3 separate regions of the Homo sapiens genome follow, and all the other regions are linked to region 2. The links come from fine-mapping of genetic effects on gene expression. A gene starts in region 2. Each other region holds a variant in brackets. All regions are shown on one strand. Distances are between the middles of the regions.

Region 1 (8,181 bases), 280 kb after region 2:
GGCATGAGCCATCTTGCTTGGCTTGCATACCCTGTGACCCTGACATGTTTCCTCTCCTTTGACTCAAACTCATAATTCCTTTCAGACAGTGAAATTTCTAAAAAGCTGTCGCCTGGAGGTAGGGATGAAGAACAATGTCAAATGGGAGCTGAACCCTGAAATAGTTGCCCGCCACTTCTTTAAGAATGTGAGTGAGTGTTCCCAAAAACCACTCTACCCCTGAGGTGGAAGCTGCCTCTGGAAAGGAGGCCTGGGATTGATCCCTTTGTTAGGAAGGGGTGTGATCATCCAGTTGTAGTTAAGGAAAGTATTCTTGGTTAGTTTGCAGGAATATGGGAAGGAAATGGCTAAGGACTAAGGATGGTCACATAGAATTTGAAGACTGATAGGAAAAGGTGGTGGTTTCCATTTATTTCCTGTCTACCTAGGGAAATGCTGGGGATTTGTGACTCACTGGAGAATTGTTACTTTTGTGGATGAAGTGGTTTTGGCCTCAAGCCCTGTTTCTCTTTGTGAATCTACCTCCCTTTCTGAGAAATCAGAATTGAATTTCTCTACTACCGTCTATGAAGGTGTATGCCCTTCTCTCCCATGGAATCAGCCAGAGTAGACACCCCAGTTTTATTCATCCCTGTGCAGGGAATCCTGTAACCCTCTTTATGAGGTTCCCTAGAGTGGCAGTCATGAAAACAGAGTTCATTTGAGCTGAGATTTTTTTTTTTTTTTTTTTTTTTGCAGCTTGGTGTTGTGGTTGCCCCACATACATTAAAGTTACCAGAAGAGCCTATCACACGGTGGGGCGAGTATTGGTGTGAGGTGACGGTGAGTGTTTTGCATACTTTCTTTTTTCTTTTCTTTCTCCTTTTCCCCCACTTTTTCCTTTTTTTCCTTTCTCTTAAAGACAGGGTTTTGTTTCATTGCCCAGGCTGGATTCAAACTCCTGGGTTCAAGCGATCCTCCCACCTCAGCCTCCCAAGTAGCTAGGACTACAGGCGTTAGCCACCGCACCTAGCACCTACCTCTCCCTTTTTTCTAATTTTTTTTTTTTTTTTTTTTTTTTTGAGCTGGAGTCTCACTCTGTTGCCCAGACTGGAGTGCAGTGGCACGATCTCAGCTCACTGCAACCTCCACCTCCCAGGTTCAAGCGATCCTTCTGCCTCAGTCCCCCTAGTAGCTGGGATTACAGGCACACGCCACCGTGCCTGGCTAATTTTTGTATTTTAGTAGAGACAGGGTTTCCCCATGTTGGCCAGGCTGGTCTCAAACTCCTGACCTCAGGTGATCCACCTGCCTCAGCCTCCCAAAGTGCTGGGATTACAGGCATAAGCCACTGTGCCCAGCCCTAGCTCTCCTTTTTCTGACTGGGAGAAAAGTCAGGGTGAAAAGCTGGGATTAGGTGGTGCTAAATCTTACTTACCTGACTGATCTCTGAGAATTCCCATTGTTTTGTGTGCAGGTAAATGGGCTTGATACTGTGAGAGTGCCTATGTCTGTCGTGAACTTTGAGAAGCCCAAGACCAAAAGATATAAGTACTGGTTAGCCCAGCAAGCTGCCAAGGCTATGGCCCCCACCAGCCCCCAGATCTAAATCTACTCTCCCTCCAAGGCAGCAAAGCAGAATCGGGAGCAGTGGAGCAGAAATGTGCAAGCACCCTGATCTCACTCCCAGCTCTGACCAAATACAGAATTTTAGAGAACATCTGAAGACATCAGACTGCACTGCGTATACATGTTGAATTCTTCATTTTTGCCATCTTTAACTGTCATCACTGGGGCAGGGAAGTCCTGTTCCAGAAGTACCAGGCTGTAGATTTGATAAGCTAGATGCAGTAGACCGAAACCATCCAAAACCTGTTTAGCTTCTTCCTCCATTGGAGTTTATTGGGACAAACAGGAGAGCCAGCCATTGTCTCCAGTACTTGCCTCATTCTCATCATCCAAACTGAACATTTGTATCCCAAGCAGAAATAAAGAGAATATGTTCTTTTTAAGTAAGTGTTGCTTACTGGTCTTGAGTAGATGAGACAGGACATCCAACTGAGATTTCCTTGAGTCACAGAGGTTTGCTGCTAAAAAGGAAAGAAGAGAATATCTTAGACTGCATCCCACAGTTACTGTGGTATGAACAAATTGTGCTGAACAAGTTGATGATGTGTTTGGTCTTAACACTTACTCTTCTTAGATACATTGATGTAGTCATCAATGTGAATAAGCACAATGGATTCTGCTTCTCTAAGACCTGAGTAAGGCCTAAGGGTAATTGTTGGAAAGCTGGGATGAAAGAAGCTTAAAAAGGGAACTTTTTTCCTTGAACCAGCTCCTGAAATTCTGAAAAAGAAGTTACCTTAATTTTCTAGACCAAGATTAAGATAGGGAGCTAGTCAAAAGGTAACTCTGGAATGGATGAATGGATGTCTTGATGGGAGATAAACGAAAGTAGATAGTTTTTTCCTTTTTCTTTTTCTTTTTTTTTTTTTTTTTTGAGACAGAGTCTTGCTCTGTCACCCAGGCTGGAGTGCAGTGGCATAATCTCAGCTCACTGCACCTCCGCCTCCCTGGTTCAAGTGATTCTCCTGCCTCAGCCTCCCGAGTAGCTGGGACTACAGGCATGTGCCACAGCACCCGGCTAATTTTTTATATTTTTAGTAGAGATGGGGTTTCACCATATTGACCAGGATGGTCTCAAACTCCTGACCTCATGATCCACCCTCCTCGGCCTCCCAAAGTGCTGGGATTACAGGCAGGCATGAGCCACCATGCCTGGCCTGAAAGTAGATAGTTTTCTGTAAGTTCAGAGTTTCATTAGTAGAAAAAAACATTCATTTTCAGGTGGATTGTGCCAAGGTCACTCAAATACAATGTGAGGTCATGCAGTTTAGGGTAGTAAAGATGGGATCATTGACTCCTTTGCTATCCATACCAGACATTGGTTTCTTTCCTATTTGAGCTCACCTACCACTCTGAGTCAGTTAAACACTTTCATCCCATCTCAGCTAATGAGAAAGTCTGTCATCAGTAGTTGCACTGATAACTATAGCCAACTTCATACTTGACAGAGCTCTGTAACTCAAGTGTGGCACTGGCACTATCTGAAATTTAGCATTTCTCCCCTCCCCACCCTTTTCTTTTCTTTTTTTTTTTTTTTTTTGAATGGGAAAATAACATTATTTCACATTAGGGAGTAGGCAGGCATCCAGACTCAGAACTGGAATTGCTTCTTGGTGGCATTGGGGACCATGAGCATGTTGAAGTGTACCATCTTGCTCATGCTGGTGCTTACCCAACCATGATGATGTTGCTGATCTGGACATCCCTGATGCAAGGGGATGGGTGCATGAACATGTTCTTGTGCTTCTTGAAGCAACTGTACTTACACATGTAGTGGAAATAGTCTTGGTGGATGATGTTGATCTTTTGCATCTTTTATCTTGGTCACCATGCCAGACAGGATCCACCCTCAGATGGAGATGTTACCAATAAAGGGCAATCAGTGTAAATATAGGTGCCCTCATAGCCTATTTGGGCATATTGAAGCCCAAACTGATTTTTTTTTTTTTTTTTTTTTTTTTTGAGATGGAGTTTCGCTCTTGTTGCCCAGGCTGGAGTGCAATGGCACGATCTTGGCTCACTGTAATCTCTACCTCCCGGGTTCAAGCGATTCTCCTGCCTCAGCCTCCCAAATAGCTGGGATTACAGGAGCCCACCACCACGCCCGGCTAATTTTTTGTGTATTTTTAGTAGAGACGGGGTCTCACCATGTTGG[C/T]CAGGCTGGTGTTGAACTCCTGACCTCAGGTGATCCACCCGCCTCGGCCTTCCAAAGTGCTAGGATTACAGGCATGAGCCACTGCACCCAGCCCCAGACTGATCTTATGGTCCTATAGGAACTTCTCATTGCCAGTATCTCCCAGCAGGACCCTCTTGTTTTGAAAGATGGTTGACTGCTTTTGGTAGGTACACTCAGTCTTGGATTTAACAGAACTTCCTGAAAGGTTTGAGCCTCCATTAACTTGCAGAGACCCCAGTATTTAGGAAGCGCTAATCTAGATTGAAGTAGATGCATACACTTCTGTACCCCAGTTAATCCCTAGTGAGTTGGGGACACCCAGAATTAACCCCCAAACTGAAGCACAGAGTTCTGCCATCCTGGACACGCTCCTGAGGTTTGGGGAGGACCTGCAGCCTCGGCATGAGCCCCAAGCCCACTGAAATTTGCCATTTCAATGATCCCCATTCCTATTGTCCTTGAAATGGTAGGCTAATTAAACACACACAGCATCTCTCAACATGACCATCACGAAACTCTCTGAAATTGAGCAACGAGCACACATTTCACACAGCTAACCTTAAAAAGCATTTAAATACCTGCCATAGGTTGAGTTCTTGGCAAAAACACTCTGTGTTGGAGATTCACATGCAGGAAGTTTATTGGGAGGAGTTATCTGCATCAACACCTATTGGGGAGTAAAGGCAGTAGAATTGGGTAGAGGGAGAAATTGAGCTGATGCAGTCTTAACAAACGCCTCAGTCAATCAGGAGCTCAAACTAGGATGGCTCTGCAGGATGCCCCAGTAGGGTAAGTGGGCTGGACCTTATCTCCCCACTTGACCAGGAAAGGGGTATGATCATGAGTGAGGTGGCTAACTTCAGCCAAAGGCGGTCCCTGGATGAGGCACAGGTGACAGCTGTCAGCATTCTTAGCAGCTTCAGTCCTCAAGGGGAAAATATGGGCAGCACACCACAGTCAACACTGCAGTCCACCCTTTGCACTGCTCAGACTGATTTGTTTCATTAGTTCTGGAATGGTTTCTTCAGGATTCTGATGGATCTCTTTCTGGGGAAACTTAAAAGAGGAAGGTCTGGAACAGGCCACAGCCTCTGCTGCTGTAGCTTGAGTTTGCAACTGGCATTCACCTCCCTTCTCTACTACCTATTGTTGATCTTTCCCCAACCCCCTTGAGGGGGTTGTACCTCTGGTTCACGTGGGTTACCAGATGAGGTACCTGGCCATCATGCCCTTCTCAGACTATGACTGCACTTGTTCATTTATCATCAAAATTGGGCAAGGAGAAACATACTCAAGTGGATGATCTGGGTGCCAGATATATTCTTCCCTGTCCCCACTGTGTAATAGCAGCCCCACCTCCTGATAATGACTCATTTCCTTGCCTTGTTTCTTGGTAGTGATTTGGAGTAATCTAGTGCCTGCCATAGCTTAAAGTTTAGTGAGATTCAGTGTGTTCACTGGTGCAAATATTCCCCTTCTGGGAACCAGGACTTCTAAACCCTTAGAGACCAGAGTTGGGATAGAAGGCACAGTTTCTTCAATTGGGTCACTGGGAGTGATGATAATGCGGGCTGCTCCTACACCCACCCTTTGTTCCCCAGAGCCATATATTTTCCTTAAGGATACACTATTCAATGGCTATTGGTCTCAGGTATGTACTGCATCATGAAGGATGATGCCTTCTCCTTACAGGTTATCATCTCCAATCCGGTGCCTTAGCTGTGCTTTTAACAAGCACTCTATCAGGGAGCAGCTTCTGCATAGTACGGTATGTGATTAAAGCCAATCCTACCATCATGTGCCCAGCATTGTACCTCCTTGCTATCAAGTGGGTCTCTTGGTTTGATGCAATGTTACACAAGATTTCAGGCCAATGGATCAAAATTTTGTAAACCTTTGGATGGTGTTGCTGACCGAGGCTGTGCAGGCAGGAAAGGCAAACCAGTACCCATAATATACATCAGTGCCCCTTCAAAATAGAACACTTCCCCTTCCAAGGTAGCAAGGATACAGTGTAATCAACTTACCACCAAGTGGCTAGACGGTTTCCTTGAGGAATGGTGACATCAGGCTAAGTGTTGGTCTCTGTTGCTGGCAAGCTGGACATTCACTGATGCAGTAGTTAGATCAGACTTGATGAGTCCATGACGTTGAACCCTTGCATTTGCTCCACCATGGCTCCTCCGTTCATTGATCACTTTGCCAGCATTGGGGTGCCAGCAACAAAGCCTGGTTAACATTATTTGGCTAAGTCATTCCATCTGCTTGGTTGGTACCTTTTCTGTGGTGGATGTTATCTGATGGGAATTAACCTGCAATACAAAAATCATCACACTGTATACCCATTCTCGGGTATGTTATGTTCCTTTTCCCCACACTTCCTTGTTTTTAATCTTCCAGTTTGCCTTCCAGGCCCATGAGTCTATATATATTCTTACTTCTGGCAGGTACACAGGCCATCTAAGTGGGGCCATAGTGCAGCCACAGTGTATTTCCAGCCTACTTTCACCTAATGAGACAACCAGTACATTAACCAAGCTCAGCCTTTTTCCTCTTCTGTCATCAGGTCATGAGGGATCTCCGATCCATGTGGCTACAGATGTAAACTGAGAAAGCACCACCAGTGCATCAATAGTGGGTGACAGGGCATCTGGGCACCTGCTTATGTAGCTCACTTTTGCCTTCCAGCCCTGCTTGTTCCCAATTCTACATATGCCACTTTCATTTTATGAAGGATGACCGGTCGACCCACCCAGCCTTATGACTTGTGGGTTTGACAGAACCCAGGTTATAATACATCATGACTTAACGTCCCATAGGTAAGCACATTGTCTCAACTAGTACTCGGTAGCATTCCAGGAGCTATCTTTTGAAAGGTATATAATGCTCTGTTTCAGATGGCATGGCATTGCTCCAGCACTATAGGGGGCTGTGTGTGACTTACTATTGGGATTTATCACGAACAGTATATGATCTTTTCTCACCACTGACACCTCTAATATAATATGGTGTCTTGTGATCCAAGCCGCAGGGCCATTTGTACCACAGTCTTGGCCTGCTACAGAGCTTTTACCTGCTCTGGGACCCACTCAAAGTTGGCAGGCTTTTGTGTCACGTATGATATTTGTGTCAAAGCAACATTTCCAAGTATGGAATATGCTAGCAATAGACCCCAAGACATTTGCAAGGCATTGTGCTTTTTAGTGGTGAGAAATACGAGATGCAAAATTTCTCCTTATCATCTTTGGAGGGAATGTCCTGGTATGCTTCAGACCACTGGACTTTTAAAAACTTCACTGATCTGGCAAGATCCTGAATATTTGTAGGATTCTTGCCCTACTATTTGAAGAAGATTTATCCTACCAAGGCCTCTGATACAGGTATCATTTCAGGTTCATCCTGTACAATTACCATGATGTCATCAGTGCAGTAATGGGATGTCCTATGGAATGTCCTAATGGTCCAGGTCCCTTCAGACTATATTATGACAGAGGCAGGAGAGTTTACATGGTCCAGAGGCAAAACTGGAAATGTATATTATTGCTCATCTCAGTGAAAGCAAGCTTTTATGATCTTCCTTTCTACAAGGATGAAAAAGGGTGCATTGTCCAGATCAATACATACCATGTAGGCTGCGTTAATCTTTTCCAGCAAAGATATCACATTTGGAACAGCAGATAGAATTAGCATTATTTGTTGATTGAGATTGCAGTAATCCATACTCATTCTCCAAGATCTGTCTGGTTTTAGCAGTTGCCAGACTAGTGAATTAAATGGCAATATGATGGGCACCACCACCTCTGCATTCTTTAGGTCTTCAAGCAGGGCACTAATGGAGTAATTTTTATTTATTATATTGGTCTGGAATGGTGGAGGCAGTTCCAGACACTTCATGTTGGCCTTCCTCACTATGATATTTCCTACCTCACAAACCAAAAAACCAACCTGGTGGTTCTGCCAACTGTCAAATATGTCTATTCCAACTGTCCATTAAGGACTCATGAAGTAACTACTAGGTGAGTCTGTAAACCTGGTAGACCTACTGAGAGTCAGAGCTGGAGCTGGAATACAATTATTACCTAGCCTCCACACCCTGCAACTCTAACAGAGGTCCATAATGGAGCTTCCAATCCTAGGGTGTCAATGTCAATGGACTCTATCCAACAGTGCTTTAAATGTTTGCATAGTCCTCTTTCTCTCCTGTGTCTTATGAAAATAAAAGGTCATAAGTCCCTGTGGGTTAGGATTGGGAAAATTACTACCTTATATACTTGTCATGGTGTCTCAGGGTCCTTTCTGCTAGAGACGTAGCCTCTTTAACAAGTTGTTTCCAGCTGAAAAATTGGCCCAAGAAGACTTCCACTTCTCCCAAGAAGGAAGTACAGCTACAGAAATTG
Region 2 (8,181 bases):
AGTTCCAAAAGTGAAGGGGATCACGTCACTGTCCTGCTTAAAAATCTTCAATGTTCCTTGATACATAACCCTAAGGTTACAATCCAAACTTCCAAGTATATCTCCTAATGAGCTGACCCTTGTCTCTCCCATCTCACATCCCACAGCTTCTGCCTCACATTTACCATCACCCCATACCCTAAGTCTGGTTCTACTGAACCACCTGCAAGTACTGAGAACACGAACAATGTTTCATCCCGAACCTTAATTCTGCACAAGCCACTATGTAAAACTTCCTCTGAAGACACTGCTGTAAGTCCTAAGCATTAAACATGAATTAACTCTTAATCCTCACAACAACTACTATTCTCTCCACTTTACAGATGAGGAAACTGAGACACAGAGCCAACAAATAACTTGCTAGATTTCATATAGCTAATACGTTGTGACACTGGGATTTGAACCCCAGTCTTGTGGCAGAGCCTGTGGCTGTAAATACTGTGCTATCTTGCCTGAGTTCACCTTTTTTCACTACCATGTTCATCCACCTGGTGAATTCTTATTTATATTTCAATACCCACCTCAAGCAGCACTTTTCCAGGATACTTTCCCTCCTCTCCCAGAGTTAACCTCTCATTTCTTTCCTGGCATTTGTCATTGTGTCTTGGTCACACCCCTGTTATTGCATTTGTCACTGTACTGTGTCCATTTCAGAATCAACCCAATGCTACACAGAGATCAGACTGCACATAAGAATTACCTTGAGCCATGGAAGTTCCTACATTTATTTCCTGATAAGCCCTTTTACCCATCTGTATATTATTTTTGTCTCTTGCTGTCAGTTTACCAGCTCTCACTCATCCTCAGCTCCTTGCTGGCTCCAGCCCTTCAGTTTGATTCATTGTTTGCCTGCTTTGACAAATCTACCTTGCCTGCTACCTTTCCTGAACTCTCCCTCCTTTGACTGATAACCTAGAAATGAACCCCTTTCAGCGTGACCCTGGGGAGCAGCTGTCAAGCAGGCAGCCCTAACTGGGTGGGGCTGATCCCCCAACCTGGCTCTGAACAAGTCATACTTATTTGGTTTAGCTTTTTCCTTTGGTTTCATTCAAGCTACTTCATGGGGCTGAAGAGTTATTGAAAGAATAAATGTCATAGAGAAAGTAAGAAAAACTAACAACTAGGTTTAGGAAGAACAAAAACGCTAATGAAGTCAGACTGCAGGCTCTTCACTCCCAGTGGTTCACCATTTTCACAATTCAGCGAACACCCAAGTAGCCTTTTCTTTAATTTACAGTTAGCAATTGGCTTACATTCCCCTCTGTCTATTTCTTCCAAATTTCATAGCTTCCACTTACTCATGATGTCTTCTCCATAAGTTTTATTTGCCATGACTTCATGGTTCTGTCTATGCAAATGTTCAGCTTCAGCTCTTCTAAATGCCTAATTTTCTATGTGCTTCTAATTTCAGTTTCCCAAAAACAAGAAGCTTTTTGGCCCTAGTTCATCTTTCCATGTTATGTCATGAAACATCCACTACCAGCCATCCTATAGATTGGCAGTGCTGGTGTCCAGACTAACTTCAACCCAGTCCACTCTAACAGGGTCACAGTGTGTCAAATCATGCAAAACTTGGCCACCTGGGCTGCCCCTTGAGCACAGGTTCTAAGTGAGGCATTTTCTCTTAAAAAGAACTATAGTGGCCGGGCGCAGTGGCTCTCACCTGTAATCCCAGCACTTTGGGAGGCTGAGGAGGGCAGATCACGAGGTCAGGAGTTCCAGACCAGCATAACCAACATGGTGAAACCCCGTCTCTACTAAAAATACACAAAAAATTAGCAGGGTGTGGTGGCGCACACCTGTAATTCCAGCTACTCAGGAGGCTGAGGCAGGAGAATCGCTTTAACCCGGGAGGCGGAGGTTGCAGTGAGCTGAGATCACCCCGTTGCACTCCAGCCGCCTAGGCAACAAGAGTGAAACAACGTCTCAAAAAAGAAAAAAAAGAAAAGAACTGTGGTGTGTAAGGCCTCATGATTGAGTTATGGAGTAATTTAGACAAATGATTCCTTAATATGTTGGGATCATAAATTTTTCTGAGAATCAGATGAAAGATGTGGACTCTTCGCCAGAAAAATTTCTCTTATGCAAAAAATTTACATGTAACTTTAAGGTATTAAGGAACCCCAGCAGCCGTTCATGTAACACCCCCCACCACCAAAGGTTTGAAGTCTATTACCTGGCACTTGATAAGAACTGTGAGTCAAAAAGGCATTTAGACTCAGTGGCTCCAATGCTTTCAAGCAGGGAAAATGGTAGAGTGATAGTACCCTTAGCAGAGAAGACAGAAACAGGTTTGGGGAAAACTAGTTATTCCTGAATTATTGAGTCTGAAGTGCAGGTGGGACTCTCAAGTGGATTCATAAACAAGTAACTGAAAATGTGGGTCTGGAGTAGCTGAGAACTGAGATGGAGATTTGTCTCACGTGCTCAGGGCACCTGTGAGAGCAGGTGCAGGGAAGCAGTTCACACAATGCCTATAGCCCATTATCTTTCATTTGCGTCTACTCTGCAGTTTTTGGAGACCTTTCTAAGCCCTCACTTTACTTGACAGTCCTAACAATCTTATGAAACAGGAAAGGCCTATCTCAAGACCTATTACAAATAAGGAAGTGGAAGCTCAAAGGAGTGACAAGTCTGGTCAAAAGTATTGCAATGAAGTAACAGACACAAGACTGGAACCCAAGTCTTCTGATTCTTAATACAACTCCTAATTTCATTGCAAACTGCACACAGATAAATGCCTTACTAGCACGGATCAATTTTTAAGTGCAGTAGTTTGGTTTTCGGATTTTGTCTTTGTGGCTGTCCTCAGTTTACAGAAAAGTTTGAGAGAGAGGGGTGGCAATTGTCCCTTGACAATAATCCCCAGTAATCCCGTGGCAATTGATTTGGCAATACTCACCACTGTTTACTGTTAAATATCTTCCCTGTGGAGCAATAGAGAGCCCCAACTCCTAGGAACTTGTCTACAATTCTGACCCGCACTCTGTCCTAACTAACACTCTTGGTTTTGTTTTTTGTTTGTTTGTTTTTGAGATGGAGTCTTGCTCTGTCGCCCAGGCTAGAGTGCAGTGGCGCGATCTCGGCTCACTGCAAGCTCTGCCTCCGGGGTTCACGCCATTCTCCTGCCTCAGCCTCCCGAGTAGCTGGAACTACAGGCGCCCGCCACCACGTCCGGCTAATTTTTTGTATTTTTAGTAGAGACGGGGTTTTGCCGCGTTAGCCAGGATGGTCCCGATCTCCTGACCTCGTGATCCACCCGCCTCGGCCTCCCAAAGTGCTGGGATTACAGGAGTGAGCCGCTGCGCCCGGCCTGTTTTTGTTTGTTTTTTGAGACATTGTTCCGCTCTTGTTGCCCAGGCGGCTGGAGTGCAACGGCGCGATCTCAGCTCGCTGCAAACTCCACCTCCCGGGTTCAATCGATATTTCTGCCTCAGCCTCCCAAGTAGTTGGTATTACAGGCGTGTGCCACCACGCCAGGCTAATTTTGTATTTTTAGTAGAGACAGGGGTTTCACCATGTTAGTCAGGCTGATCTCAAACTCCTGACCTCATGTGATCTACCCGCCTCGGCCTCCCAAAGTGCTGGGATTACAGGCCTGAGCCACCGCGCCCGGCCCACTGCTGTTTCCAAAAGAGACCTTTTTTGCCTATCTAACCTAAATGCCCAGAATGAGCTCATACATGGGAAAGACCCACGGACATGGACAGACTTCCCGAAGACTACTGTGCAAAACTTATAATTCTAAAAAGTCAAAAATCTTCAGGAATCACAGGACGGGGTGGAGGGGGCCGGGGGGAAAGAGGAGGGAAAAGAGGGAAAGGAGGGAGAGTGAGACTGCTTAAATCGCTGGAGAGGACGGTGGGTTTATTTGAGTCTTAAAGCTCAGTTCTGTGGTTAGCGCCGGCCGCGGTCCCAGGCCCAGCCCGGGAGGCGGGGAGGGGCGGGGCAGGCGCGGAAGCTGTCTGAGTAAGGCTTGGGCAAGGCTGGGCCGGGAAGGGCGTGGGTTGAGGAGAGGCTCCAGACCCGCACGCCGCGCGCACAGAGCTCTCAGCGCCGCTCCCAGCCACAGCCTCCCGCGCCTCGCTCAGCTCCAACATGGTAAGCCTCACTTTTCTTCTTCTTCTTCTTACATGAAAAGAAAAAGAAAAGAAAAAAAACCCACATACTTCCCAGCAGACTTTATCTTTGACTTATGTGTGGACGTGGCAGGAAACAGCAGGAAAAATCAGCCTCGTGGGAGGGAACTGGGGAAGAAGGGATGGAAGGATGAAGCCCTAAAATCATCCTTGGGGTGGCCGCCTAGGGTAGCAGCGGAGGTTCTTTAGCCTTCCCAGTCACGACAAGGCCCAGGGCTGGGGAAGAGGAAGTGCTGGCCGCTCACCGCGCGGGGGGGGGACCCGTCGTGGGTCACTGCCTCCAGCCCCTCGCCCGCGGTCTCCCGGGAGCCCAGAGACGCCTAGGAGCAAGTTTAAGGCAGGGGGCTGGAAAGCTGCGAGGGGTCACTAGTTATTTCTGTACACCAGAAAAGGGACATTTTAGAACTTGGTCGTCTAGCCCCAGGGAAAATCAAAGTTTCAGTAAGCACCCGGCAGACGGCCAAGACCCAACGGGACTGAAACTTTAGCCCGTCGCCGCCCGCAGCGCCGCGGCCAAGAATGTGGGAGGAACCCGGTCCCAGCTGAGCCCTCTCCTCCTTCCTCTTCCTTTTACCCCACCATCTATTTAGGCACTCACTCCGTAACTTATTTTTCTCTTCTTATCTCCTTTCATCTCCCAGTTGAACTCATATTTTCCATAATTCCACCTCCAAAATCTCTTTCTTTACCTCTCCTTAGTGGAGAGTCAGCAAACTGGCCCGCGGGCCAAGTCGGGTTTTCTGTTCTGCCCACAAGCTAAGAATAAAGTTTACATTTGTAAATGATTGAAAGAAATCAAAAGAAGAAAAATACTTTCTGACATGTGAAAATTATGTGGAAATCAAACTTCAGCGTCCATAAATGAAGTATTGGAACAGAGCCACGCCCATTCCCTTCCATACTGTCTGGGGTTGCAGTCCTGCTACAGCAGGGACAGAAAGCTCCGGAGGGTGTTGGTTAAGAATGAGAAGACAATAGTTGAGGTTTTTAAAATTGCTACGTCTTTTTCATCGTATTTTTTTCTTTCCTCAAATGTTGAGCGCTTAGCATGCATTTTTAAAAATTATTTCACAGTATCCGTTTATCATAATGTTTGCTCCTTGCTATCGCCATCCCCACCAAGTAAGACTCCAAGAGTGCCATGAGGTGTGGAGAGCGCCGGTTCTCCTCTCCTTCAGCCACTGCGCCACCCTGGGCAGAGCTTTCCGGTTTCTGGGCGTCCTCAGGACCCATCTCCAAAGTGCCCTGGAGCTCTACAAATTATGCCGTTCCATTTTAGTAATTTGATAATTGTGTCTCTTTCTTTCACTTTGGAGAATTACCTCTGGGAGGAAATGCAAAGAGGTTTTAATTTTCTCCTTGTGGCTGATAGCAACAGCAACAGTTTTCAAAAGAAAATAATCTCTAAATTACACCAAGACTGATGTTAAGGAGAGAAAAATGTGAAGCAGAAAGGCACTGTGAAACTGGAAAAGCAAAACTGTCTGCATTCTGGAAGGAAAAGGGGCAGGGGGAGAATCTGTAGTTCCAGAGAAAGGTGACAAAGCCCATGCTCCTCAGCCTGGTGTGGCCTCCCAGCCAGTCTCCTTCCTGTCATCTGATACCTTAGTAAGACAGGGAGATTTTAGGCCTGATATGAAGGGCATGTTGTAACAGAACAAACACATCTGTTTCTAGGCTGTGGTATTTTGTTTCTCCCCTAAAGGCCCCTGAACCTACCAACACTTTTCTTAATGAAAAGTTCAATTTAGAGCAAAACAAAAACAATCATCCTCCAACAATGTGATTCTTGGGAAAAAGTCCACCTCTCTTAGGGTTCAGGGGTTCTAACGCTGTAAGATGCAATGGGAGGCAAGACTCAGCTAGGATCTCTGCAGCATAAAGGCTGTACAGGAAGGAGGAATCAATCTGCAGCTGTGTAGCTAAGGGCTCAGATCAGTTCTTAGCACGTGTTAATTACGGAGTGAGAAAGCCTCTAGCTCTGGCCTCCAGGAAGTCCATCCTAAGAACAAACGAAAGGCTAAATGCTAAGTTGCAAATGTCACCATCCAAACATAAATCATTGTTAACGCTAGTAGGTAAAGTCTCAGAGGAAGGGTGTGGCCAGGCCGGTTTCCCAGAAAGTCTGTAATTGCGGCTTCTACCCACCAGAGGGAGGCCAACAGCTCCTCACTTTTGGGACCCTAAGTCCCCTTGGGGAACCGGATGACTGGGCCCTATAGAATTTCCTTGAAAAATTCTGCTGTGAGGAAAGAGCCCAGTACAGGATTTAAATCTCTTACATTGTAGATGCTGTGTAAGCAGCAACCTGAGAGCTTCCTGGTTTGGAGTGACCTCCAGAGAAGCTCCACCTTCTCTGTCACTATTTCCCACCAGGAAGTGGAAGCCTGCAAGGCTAAGGACTGCAGAAAGGGACTGGGAGGCCCAGATTCCAGGGCTGGCTCTGCCATATCCATTCCCTTCTCCTGTCCGTTTCCTCACATCTAAGATTAATGGTTCCTAACTCTTAAATATGAAAGCCATTTTCAAACATCTAAAAAGTTCTATCTCCCACTGCATACACAATGATAGCTATGCTTTTAGTTTTCTCTAAGGAAATGTGTGAGTCCCAGGAATTCGGTATTGCTTTAAAAAGAACTGACATTTCATTAATCACAAAAGCCTCCATACACTCTTGGAAAATAAGAAATTATTAACCTATAGACAATGTTTGGTGTGCATATGGATTTGTGGATATAGAGTTACACATGTATTTATCCACACATTTTAAAAATATGAGTAAACCTTGTCACCGTCACTCTCATCTAGGCAGTCTACTGCTTTTAAACGTGCCAGCAATGCTCCACATTTACCTTCCATATATTTCACCTGGAATAAACATGTGGCGAGGGGTAGGACGGAAGGTCACAGAGTGTGACTTTTTGTGGTTGTCTTGAACCCCTCAGCCCCTTGAAAAAATGACTCAGTCTTTTAGGAAACTGCTTTGACCTGAAATAAGAGTCCCTGGAGTTTTCTCCAGTATCCAGCCTTGACATCTTCCCTTGTCTGAGCCCTGCAATTTTTTTTCTCCAAAGGCAAAAATCTCCAGCCCTACAGAGACTGAGCGGTGCATCGAGTCCCTGATTGCTGTCTTCCAGAAGTATGCTGGAAAGGATGGTTATAACTACACTCTCTCCAAGACAGAGTTCCTAAGCTTCATGAATACAGAACTAGCTGCCTTCACAAAGGTACTGGTCCCTGTCTCCCCCACTTCCCCAAACTACCCACAACATGAAACAAGACCCTGGCAGAATGGCCAGGAATGAAGGAGCAGCAACTGACACCCCACACTCTTGCTTCATTTTAACTCACTCTAAGCCAGGAGTTTTTCCATTTAGGAAGAGAGATATATGAAATGGTATATGACGTAATGGAATTATTTTCAAATTTCATTATTCTACCCCAGAGGTTCTATGGCAGCCCTGTCCAGTAGAACTTTCTGCAGTGGTGGAAATACATTCTATATCTGCTCTATCCAACATGGTAGCCACCAGCCACATGTGTCTGCTGAGTGCTTGAAATGTGGCTAGTGTGACTAACAGACTGACTTTCTAAATTAGTTAATGTAAATGTAAATGTAAATAGCCATTTGTAACCAGTGGCTCTAAGTCTGTATCTGTGTTGGCAGCTTGGGCAAGTGGAGGATGAGACTGATTAGGCAGGGCCTGTGGCCTTTTTCCACCTGAACCCGCTGTACTTTTATATAGTTTATCTATTGGAGTTGCATGCAACACTTGAAAGAAGTGTTCCACTGGCTTTACAAAACTGAATAGCCCCTAATATCATAGAAAGAGCCCTGGACTAGGAGTGGGAAAACCTTTGGTTCAAGGCCCAGGTCTGCCCCTTAGGCAGGTCACTTCACCTCTTTTAGTCTGTTTCTGCATCTGGCAAATGGGAATATTAATAATCCCTATCCTGTACCTTATACTCCTGTGAGAATAAAATGTGGCAGCATATTTGAAAG
Region 3 (8,181 bases), 460 kb after region 2:
TATTAGAGGCCCTGCAGAAAACAGCAACACACACTAAAAAGCTGGTTAAAGAGGGAAAGCTGCTTGCTTTTCCAACCCAAAGGCTGTTACCCTCCTCAAATTAAGTTGCTTTTCTTTTGTGTGTGTGTGTGTGACGGAGTCTTGCTCTGTCGCCCAGGCTGGAGTGCAGTGGGCGATCTCTGCTCACTGCAACCTACGCCTCTGGGGTTTAAGAGATTCTCCTGCCTCAGCCTTCTGAGTAGATGGGACTACAGGCACCCGACACCACACCTGGCTAATTTTTTTATTTTTTGGTAGAGACGGGGTTTCACTGTGTTGGCCAGGCTGGTCTCAAAACTCCTGGCCTCAAGTGATCCGCCCACCTCAGCCTCCCAAAGTGCTGGGATACCAGGCGTGAGCCACTGCGCCCAGCCTAATTAAGTTGCTTTAACTCCTGCCATGTCAGAGCACCTTTCCTTTCCAAAGTGGAAACACTTCCTAGTGGGACATATCATAGCAAAAGGTACGTTTAAATAGAGATGAAAATGAGCCAATCAATTCTTGGCCTTAGAAATTTAGTTTGAAAAAGGTTCCAATGCACCATTTGGTTGAAATACTGTGTCACTGCCAGGCTTTTTTCTGTGCAGGGGAAAGAACAGACGAAGATGGGGAAGATGGGGCAGTTGTTCGGCAGGCAGGGTGCTGCTGCTTCTTTTCCCGTGCTGGGCTGACGCTCCAGGTTTACAGGACGCTGTTGATGACGGCTGCATGTCTGAGCAGCTCTCAACACCCAGCTCAAAGAAACAGGCCTTCATGGCAGAGGTCCCAGGGAATCAGACTCTATCCTCCCTCCACAAAATATTAAGGCAGCACAGAGGAGTTGGCTTAAAAATGACAAAACATAGGCAATAAACAGGCCACTAAAGCCAAGAGCCTTACTCGCCACACCTTTTCTTTAGGCCCTGAACACCATCTCATTCTCCTCCAGTTCCCCATTCTCCGTCTCTAATTGACAAGATCACCAAGATACAAACTGTATTTCCCTGACTACATTCCCTTTCCAAACCTGTGCCCCCCGCTCCCCTGTGTCATGCCCCTACTCTCTTTGGTTGTGGCATAACTAAACTCTAGGAAATATACACCAGTGGCATGTTTTTGTCCAAGGACTCTCTTAGACCCCTGGTTCGAGTCTCTGGAATGCCTCCAGACTGCTCCATTATCTGCAACCCAAATCTTGGTTCCTCCCACTGAGCACAGGAGGCCCGGCGGGAGCCTCCCTTTCATGTATGGCAGCACACTCACTCCAGTATTCCTCCAGCCCTGTGAGTCTTCTTGGCACCTTGGTCAACCCCGCCCTGCTTCCACCCTGTTAATATTCTAAGAGCAAGTACAGTCTAGATCTAGCCATGCCAAACAAGACTGCCAGAGAAAGAAGAGAGCCACGGGTGTCAGAAGACAAATCCGGGTCTGCAAAGGAAAGAGGTTTCCAATGTGTTTGAAGCCTGTGGTGTGAATTGGCTGAGAAGCAGGAGAAGGGGGAAGAAATCAGAGAAAAATGTACACTCTTTCAATTGAAGAAGAGAAATGGGAGCTAGAAAGGAAACAAGCCAGGGATGAGGGGTTGTTGTGTTTCTGGTTTCTTTGGCCCAGAGAAGATTCATGTAAATTCAGCTATGTCCCCATTTGGCCCTGCAGTCAACTGCCTTCTTGGCAGAAAGGAAAAAAAAAATCATGAGACTAATTGAATGATGCCCAGAGACAGCCAGAAACGAACCCCCTTGAACAGCTGCAGTCAGCATTTCCAGAGTGCTTTTCATTTCTGCAGAAGGCATGCAGTTACTCATCTACCTCCAGTGCTGCTGTTCTATCTCTATGTAATCACAGGACTCTACCTCTATCTCTTCCAAATGAGACACAATGCGGCCAGGCTTAGGGATCCTACAAGGCCATTGCTCCAGAGAGGGTCAAAGCTAAAGTTAGGGGCTGCCTCCTACAATCACGACTCAGAGCACGGAGGTGAGCTTCTTCTAATACCTCTATAAATGCCACAAAGTCCTCATATCATGGCATTTGGGATGTTTGGACCACACCTCCCACATGTGGATAACAGGGTGCCCATCTTCCAAGAAGCACTAAAATGTTCTTCTTTCATCCTCCCTGAAAAGTGAAAGGAAACCAGACCAGGAGGTCAAAGAGACACATTAATATAATTTATTAAATTCGCCATACAAAGAATATGCCACAGACAACAATATCAGAAAGGGAAGAAACATGGATATCACCTGCTCTGACCCCCTCATTTTACAAATGAGGGAACTCCCTGAAATCCCAGAGCATTGTTATGGACAAAGCCAGAATGTGAGCCCAGTCTTGAGACACAGAAACACACAGACTTAAGGATTCTGGCTGCGTGAGCCACATAGAGCCTAAACACTTAATCCACATTTGTTTTGAATTTTTCTGATTCCTATAGTACCATACTCTGATGCCTATCTACTTCTCAAGGTTGTAGGAAGAGCCCTAAAGAAAAACACCATGGGCCGGGCGCAGTAGCTCAAGCCTATAATCCTAGCACTTTGGGAAGCCGAGGTGGGTGGATCACCTGAGGTCAGGAATTCGAGACCAGCCTAGCCAGTATGGTGAAACCCCATCTCTACTAAAAATACAAAAATCAGCCAGGCGTGGTGGCACACCTGTAGTCCCAGCTACTCGGGAGGCTGAGGCAGAAGAATCGCTTAAATCCGGGAGGCAGAGGTTGCAGTGAGCTGAGATCGCGCCACTGCACTCCAGCCTGGGTGACAGAGTGAGACTCTGTCTCAGAAAAAAAAAAAAACAATAAAAAAAGAAAACCATGATGACCTGCAGGGTCATTCAGAGCCAGGATAAAAGACCAATTATGGAGCAAGGGGTTCAGAAGGGCTAGTGAAGAACTCATCTGGGTCCCAGAAGAGTCCTGATTGCCCTCTTTCTCCAAACAACATATACTCTGACCCCAAAGCCTCAGGGAAAGTAGACTCACCTTCCTTAGCTGCAGAGCAAGTTTGAAGGAGAAAGAGAGAAGAAACAGGCAGAGGAAAGGGAGAGAAAGATTCATAATAGTGTCACTCTGACATTAACAAGCCTAATGGGAACAGTTTTCCCGGTTTCAAGCAAATCCAAATACTGCAAGAGAAGGCTATAGAACTTTGGTATTATATCAATCATGAGATGTAAGCAAAACCACCAATAACTTAGCAAAATAAATACAAAGAGGATTTTGCTGGGACTGGTGGAACCCAGTGAAAACAGTTTTCAGGCTCTGGGTCAAGAAGACTGAGGTGTGCCTGGTGGTACACCTTAGGGAAAATCCCTAAAGAGACTCTGGGAGTTTTCACAGCAGAGAGAAGTCACACATGACTGTCTGTAGCCCTAGAGAATTTTTCCGCAAAAGGCTACTCCCTGAATGTACATTCCCTCCTCCCCAGAAAGACAAGGCCACCCAGTCAAAGCTTAGGTTCACTGGCTCTCACCAGGCCTTGCCAGGTAACCCCACTATCTGTCTGCAGGAGGCCAGGGCAGCGTAGGCTGCAGATGGAGCAAGTAGAAAAACAAACAGTTTGTTGCTAAGAACTGAGCTGTGTTTGTGGAAGGAACTTCATTCCCCCAGGACATTCTCCAATCACTCTGGACATCTGTGTCTCCAGCTTTTAGGGCTGAGGCAAATCTTGTCACCTCTCCCAATCTGATGAAGGCCTGGCTTATGGCACAGCCAGAGTCCAGTCTACAACAGAAGGGAGGCTCTCTACAGAGAAAAATAGTCACTGTAGGAATATAGATATTGCCCTGGCTCCTGCTTGCAGGACAATGTCTTCCAAAGGGCTGCAGTGCCTTGAATAGGTGCTCGTGCTCCGTCTGCCCAGCTTAGAGTGGCCAGGGGCTTGGGAATGGTGAGACACAGGAGCC[C/T]GAAGTCCTGGGTGCAGCCAGGGGACAGTCAGGAAGTCAAAGGCAGTGTTAACAGCCAACAGGGGCAGTGGGCTTCTCCGAGGCAGAGGCAGCAGCAATGGCAGCAACCATCTCCAGGCAGCTCAGGTTTCCACCACTCGGATGACAGGCATGGGCTTCGGGCTAGGCGGCTTGGATATCCTAATACTGAAAAGAAGGTTGGAAACACTGAGTTGTGCTGGGAACAGCTGTGTTGTGGCCCACCCTTCACAGAGCCCCTGGAATCTTCACATTGGCCTCTGGAATCTTACACTGCAGTGCTGGCTGATCACTTGGGTTCCAAGTGCTTTAAAACAGTAATTATCAGTGACAACTAGGGGAAGATTTGGGGCATGATACATGTGTCTTGTAGCAAGGGTGAAGAAAAGAGAGGGGCAGTTAAACAACTGAGAAGTGGATATAGCTGTGATTCTCGATTTTGTCAAGATCATGGGTCCTTTTCTGAATCTCTTAGAGGCAAAATACCCTCTCCCTAGAAATATGCAAACATTATAACTAAATTTTTCCTACCATTTCAGGTGGTTCATACATCTCTAGAAGCCATTCATGGACCTCCCTGGGCTTGTGTTAACAGGTTCTACTCTAATTGGGCTAGAAAATGGTTCCGGCAAACAGTGGGTCAGACTGAGGGAGGAAAGTTGGATTTAAAGGAGCCTTGTTCTTGCCTTAGCACTAAAGGTTCTACAGAGCTCTGTCCCTCCTTCTCCCCTCCTCCCTGGCCCCATTCTATCTACACACGCTCACTCACCTGCCCGGGTTCTCTGTCTTGGCCCGGGCCTGGGTGCTGAAGTTGCCATGACTGATTTGTTTTTCTATCAGGTGTTCCATCCGGTCATGCATCTCTAAATTCTGTAACACAAGCTTAGGGGTTAGAGTTGGCCTTTTTCTGGCTTCCCGGGTGCCACGTTCAGCTAGTGCATTCTGGTCTCTCTGCCTGTGTTTATGCTGCTGTTGCCTCTACCCCCACCATGCGTGCCACCACCTGGATACCCACTTGCCTCATCTTCATTACCATAGATTGCGCTTATCCTCCAATACCTGCTCCTCCATAACTCTGTACAACACTGACAGACTGATGGTTTCCTATATGTCCTCTACATACAGTTCTTTTTTTTTTTTTTTTTTTTTTGAGATAGGGTCTCACTCTGTTGCCCAGGCTGGAGTGCAGTGGCGTGATTATAGCTCACTGCAGCCTCGACCTCCTGGGTTCAAGTGATCCTCTCCTTTAAGTCTCCCAAGTAACTGGACTACAGATGCATGCCACCACATCTGGTTAATTAAAAAAATTTTTTCTTTTTCAGAGACAAAGTCTCACTATGTTGCCTAGGTCTTGAACTCCTGGCCTCGAGCAATCCTACCGCCTCAACCTCCCTAAGTGCTGGGATTACAGGCATGAGCCACTGCACCTGGCCCCTATATATAATTTTTTGTCCTCAGTTGAGATACTCACTTGCCTTTGTTGATACGCTATTCTATAAAGCATTCTTTGGTCTTTTTAAAAATACACATTTTATCTCTGACTATAGACTGCAAACTCTCTAAAGATAACCCTTTCTCCCATTTTTCTCCCTCACTACAGGGGATCTTCACAGAGCGTTCGCAAAGTGATCTTCAGGTAGTCAACAGACAGGTAGGGCCCTGTGGCAAAGTGGAAATTAGACTAGGAAGGCAACTCGTTACGTAATCTAGCCCTGGAAAAGGCTCCATCTGTATGAATGCCTCCTCCTCCTTCACAGCCCAGCACCACTGCCAGCTCCTTTGCAAAGCCTGGAGGGTCAGAATTAGCCGTGTGCAGCCATGGCATGTGGCTTGCACCATGATGACATGTCCGTTGAAGGTGGGGCCAGGGGGGTGGTCATCTCATCATTGTTAGCAGCTTCCTGAAGGTTCTCAGAAAATGTTTATTCAGCTGAACTGAAAGTCAACCAACCACCCTAGGTATTCACTTCAGAGCAACAGCAAGACATGACAAAGACCCCTCCCATAACCTCTGTCTCCCTTATGTCCACCTTCTCTTCAAGAGTCCTGTTCCCCTGCTGGGCTGCCCAGCACACACACCTCTGCCTCCAGATAGGCGATTTTCTCCTTGAGCTCCTGGATGGTGGCGTCCTTTGACTGGATCACAGCTTTTGAATTCTGGAGCTGCAAAGGTGTGGGAGACACTGGAGCTCATTTTGCAATGACTCATTACACACTCACCAGACTTCACCCCAGCTGCTGGGGAAGGCAGCAGAGCCCTGCAACTCCATATGACTTCATTAGCTTTTCTACAAAGGCCTCCTTTCAGTCAATATTAGACTCTTGATTATCCCAGGGGTGGGAGTGAGGAGTGTGTGAGGGGAATACCACCCTGAGAATCCAAAATAATGAATGACAAAACCCATTCCATATGGCTTTGGAAAATACAAATTATTTTTTCATTCAAGACATATTTATTGAGTACTTACTATATGACTGACTCTGTTCGAGATAATGGAAAACAGCACTAAATAAAACAGACACTAATGGAGCTGACATGAAGCACATACAGCCTCCCAGTTATGGGGCCTTAGGCTCTCAAAACAATTCTGCAAATAGACAAATCCTAAGTATGCTACCCTCAAGCTCAGGTGGGGTAAGGCAGGAAAGCAGCCATGAGGCTCAAAGACTGATAATCTGCACAGATAACAGAGTTTATTATGACTCAACTACTCATTTACCCACACTCTTCACAGAGTATATGACAAATTAACCTTTTCCTTCCTTTCCTATTGGAAAGCAGAGGCCAAATGGCAAACAAACAAACAAAACAGTAGGGGAAAGATGGGAGAAAAGCAAATCCTAATAACCTGAACCTGGTAATTGGTAGCTATAAATGTTTGACATGGGAAATGCATGAATATAAGTCAAGCTCCCTAGGAAACAAATAAGAGCATAGACTTGGGGTGACTCCCCGAGGGCAGGTTACAAACCAGCCCAACTTACCTGCTCTATCATTTGCCGGACTTTCCGCTGCTGGCTCTTGAGCATGTCATCCAAGTGGTGGATCTTCTCCCGCAACCCGGCCACTTCCTTTTCCAGGGTAGCAGCCCTGGGGATAAAGACCAGAAGGCTGAGGCAATGGAACAAGATCACTTATTTACCCAGTCACAGGAAGAGCCTTGAGCTTGGGAGGTTCCCATTAATATGATTCCCTTTGCCTGATTCCCTGGTAGGCTGCTCTGAAGAGTAGGTGGTGGGTACCTTAGAATATCACATTGGAAGCACTGAGGTCAGGAGTTCAAGACCAGCCTGGCCAACATAGTGAAACCCCACCTCTACTAAGAATACTAAAATTAGCCAAGTGTGGTGGCGTGTGCCTGTAGTCCCAGCTACTCAGGAGGCTGAGGCACAAGAATCGCTTGAACCCAGGAGGCAGAGGTGGCAGTGAGCCAAGATGGCGCCACTGCACTCCAGCCTGGGTGACAGAGCAAGACTTTGTCTCACAAAAAAAAAGAATATTACATTGGAAGCATCATCAGGGATCACCTAGTCTAAGAGAGGAAACTGAGGCTCGGAAAGGTTAGAAGGGATAAGTCATTCTGGATAACTCTGGAGGGTAAATCTAGAAGCAACAGGTAGATGGTTCCAGGGAAGCTGTTTTTATATTAACACAGGAAAGACTTTCTTAGTATTAAAGCTGTCAGAAAGTGGCCAGTCTCATGTGTAATGAACTCCTCGTTACTGGAAAGATTCAAGTAGAAGCTAGGATTTCCCTCTCCGACCTTTTCTTTTTTTTTTTTTCCGGAGACAGGGTCTCACTCTGTAGCCCAGGCTGGAGTGCAATAATGCAAACATGGCTCACTGCCAGGTTGACCTCCTGGGCTCAAGCAATCCTCCTACCTCAGTCTCCCATGTAGCTGGGACTACAGGCACATGCCACCACATCTGGCTAACTAAAAAAAAATTTTTTTTGTAGAGACAGTCTCAGCATGTTGGCCAGGCTGATCTCGAACTCTTAAACCCAAGCAATCCTCCTGTCCCGGCCTCCCAAAGTGCTAGGATTACAGGTGTGAGCCGCCATGCCCAGTTGGAGCTGGGATTATTATACTCAACACCATCAAGCTGTTGGCAGGGATTTGGAGGAGAAAGACAGAATTTGAGGCTCCTTAAAGCCTCTTCACACAATTTTGTTTCTAGGTCTCCTGATTCCCAAACCACTGTTGCTTCCTTTGCATCTTCTAAGCAAACTGAGCCAAGATC

Alleles and levels. Alleles are on the strand shown, and positions count from the first base shown. SD is a standard deviation of normalised expression in the study named. Not every link is listed here.
For the expression in monocytes of the gene that starts at base 4,049 in region 2, C is the high allele of the variant in region 3 and T is the other (large effect, 2.1 SD a copy in Quach 2016).

The links.
Region 1: its variant is fine-mapped to the expression of S100A11 in whole blood (TOPMed, PIP above 0.99).
Region 3: its variant is fine-mapped to the expression of S100A11 in monocytes (Quach 2016, PIP 0.95).

The regions. Positions count from the first base shown.
Region 1 is chr1:151,753,457-151,761,637 of GRCh38, reverse strand. MRPL9 (mitochondrial ribosomal protein L9) reads left to right here. Exons shown (of 7, transcript NM_031420.4): 5 at 86-187; 6 at 739-822; 7 at 1,457-1,991. The coding sequence ends at 1,588. It also overlaps the pseudogene RPS11P3. Among named protein-coding and RNA genes, the nearest start is that of MRPL9, 5.9 kb to the left of the region's middle. The variant C/T (reference allele first, on the strand shown) is at 3,764.
Region 2 is chr1:152,032,872-152,041,052 of GRCh38, reverse strand. S100A11 (S100 calcium binding protein A11) reads left to right here and starts at 4,049. Exons shown (of 3, transcript NM_005620.2): 1 at 4,049-4,140; 2 at 7,253-7,405. The coding sequence starts at 4,138. RefSeq lists enhancers at 2,429-2,588, 5,686-5,980 and a silencer at 4,546-4,840.
Region 3 is chr1:151,577,570-151,585,750 of GRCh38, reverse strand. It overlaps TUFT1 (tuftelin 1), which reads right to left. Exons shown (of 13, transcript NM_020127.3): 10 at 6,925-7,030; 11 at 6,019-6,102; 12 at 4,709-4,809; 13 at 2,168-4,107. The coding sequence ends at 4,044. Among named protein-coding and RNA genes, the nearest start is that of SNX27, 30 kb to the left of the region's middle. The variant C/T (reference allele first, on the strand shown) is at 3,922.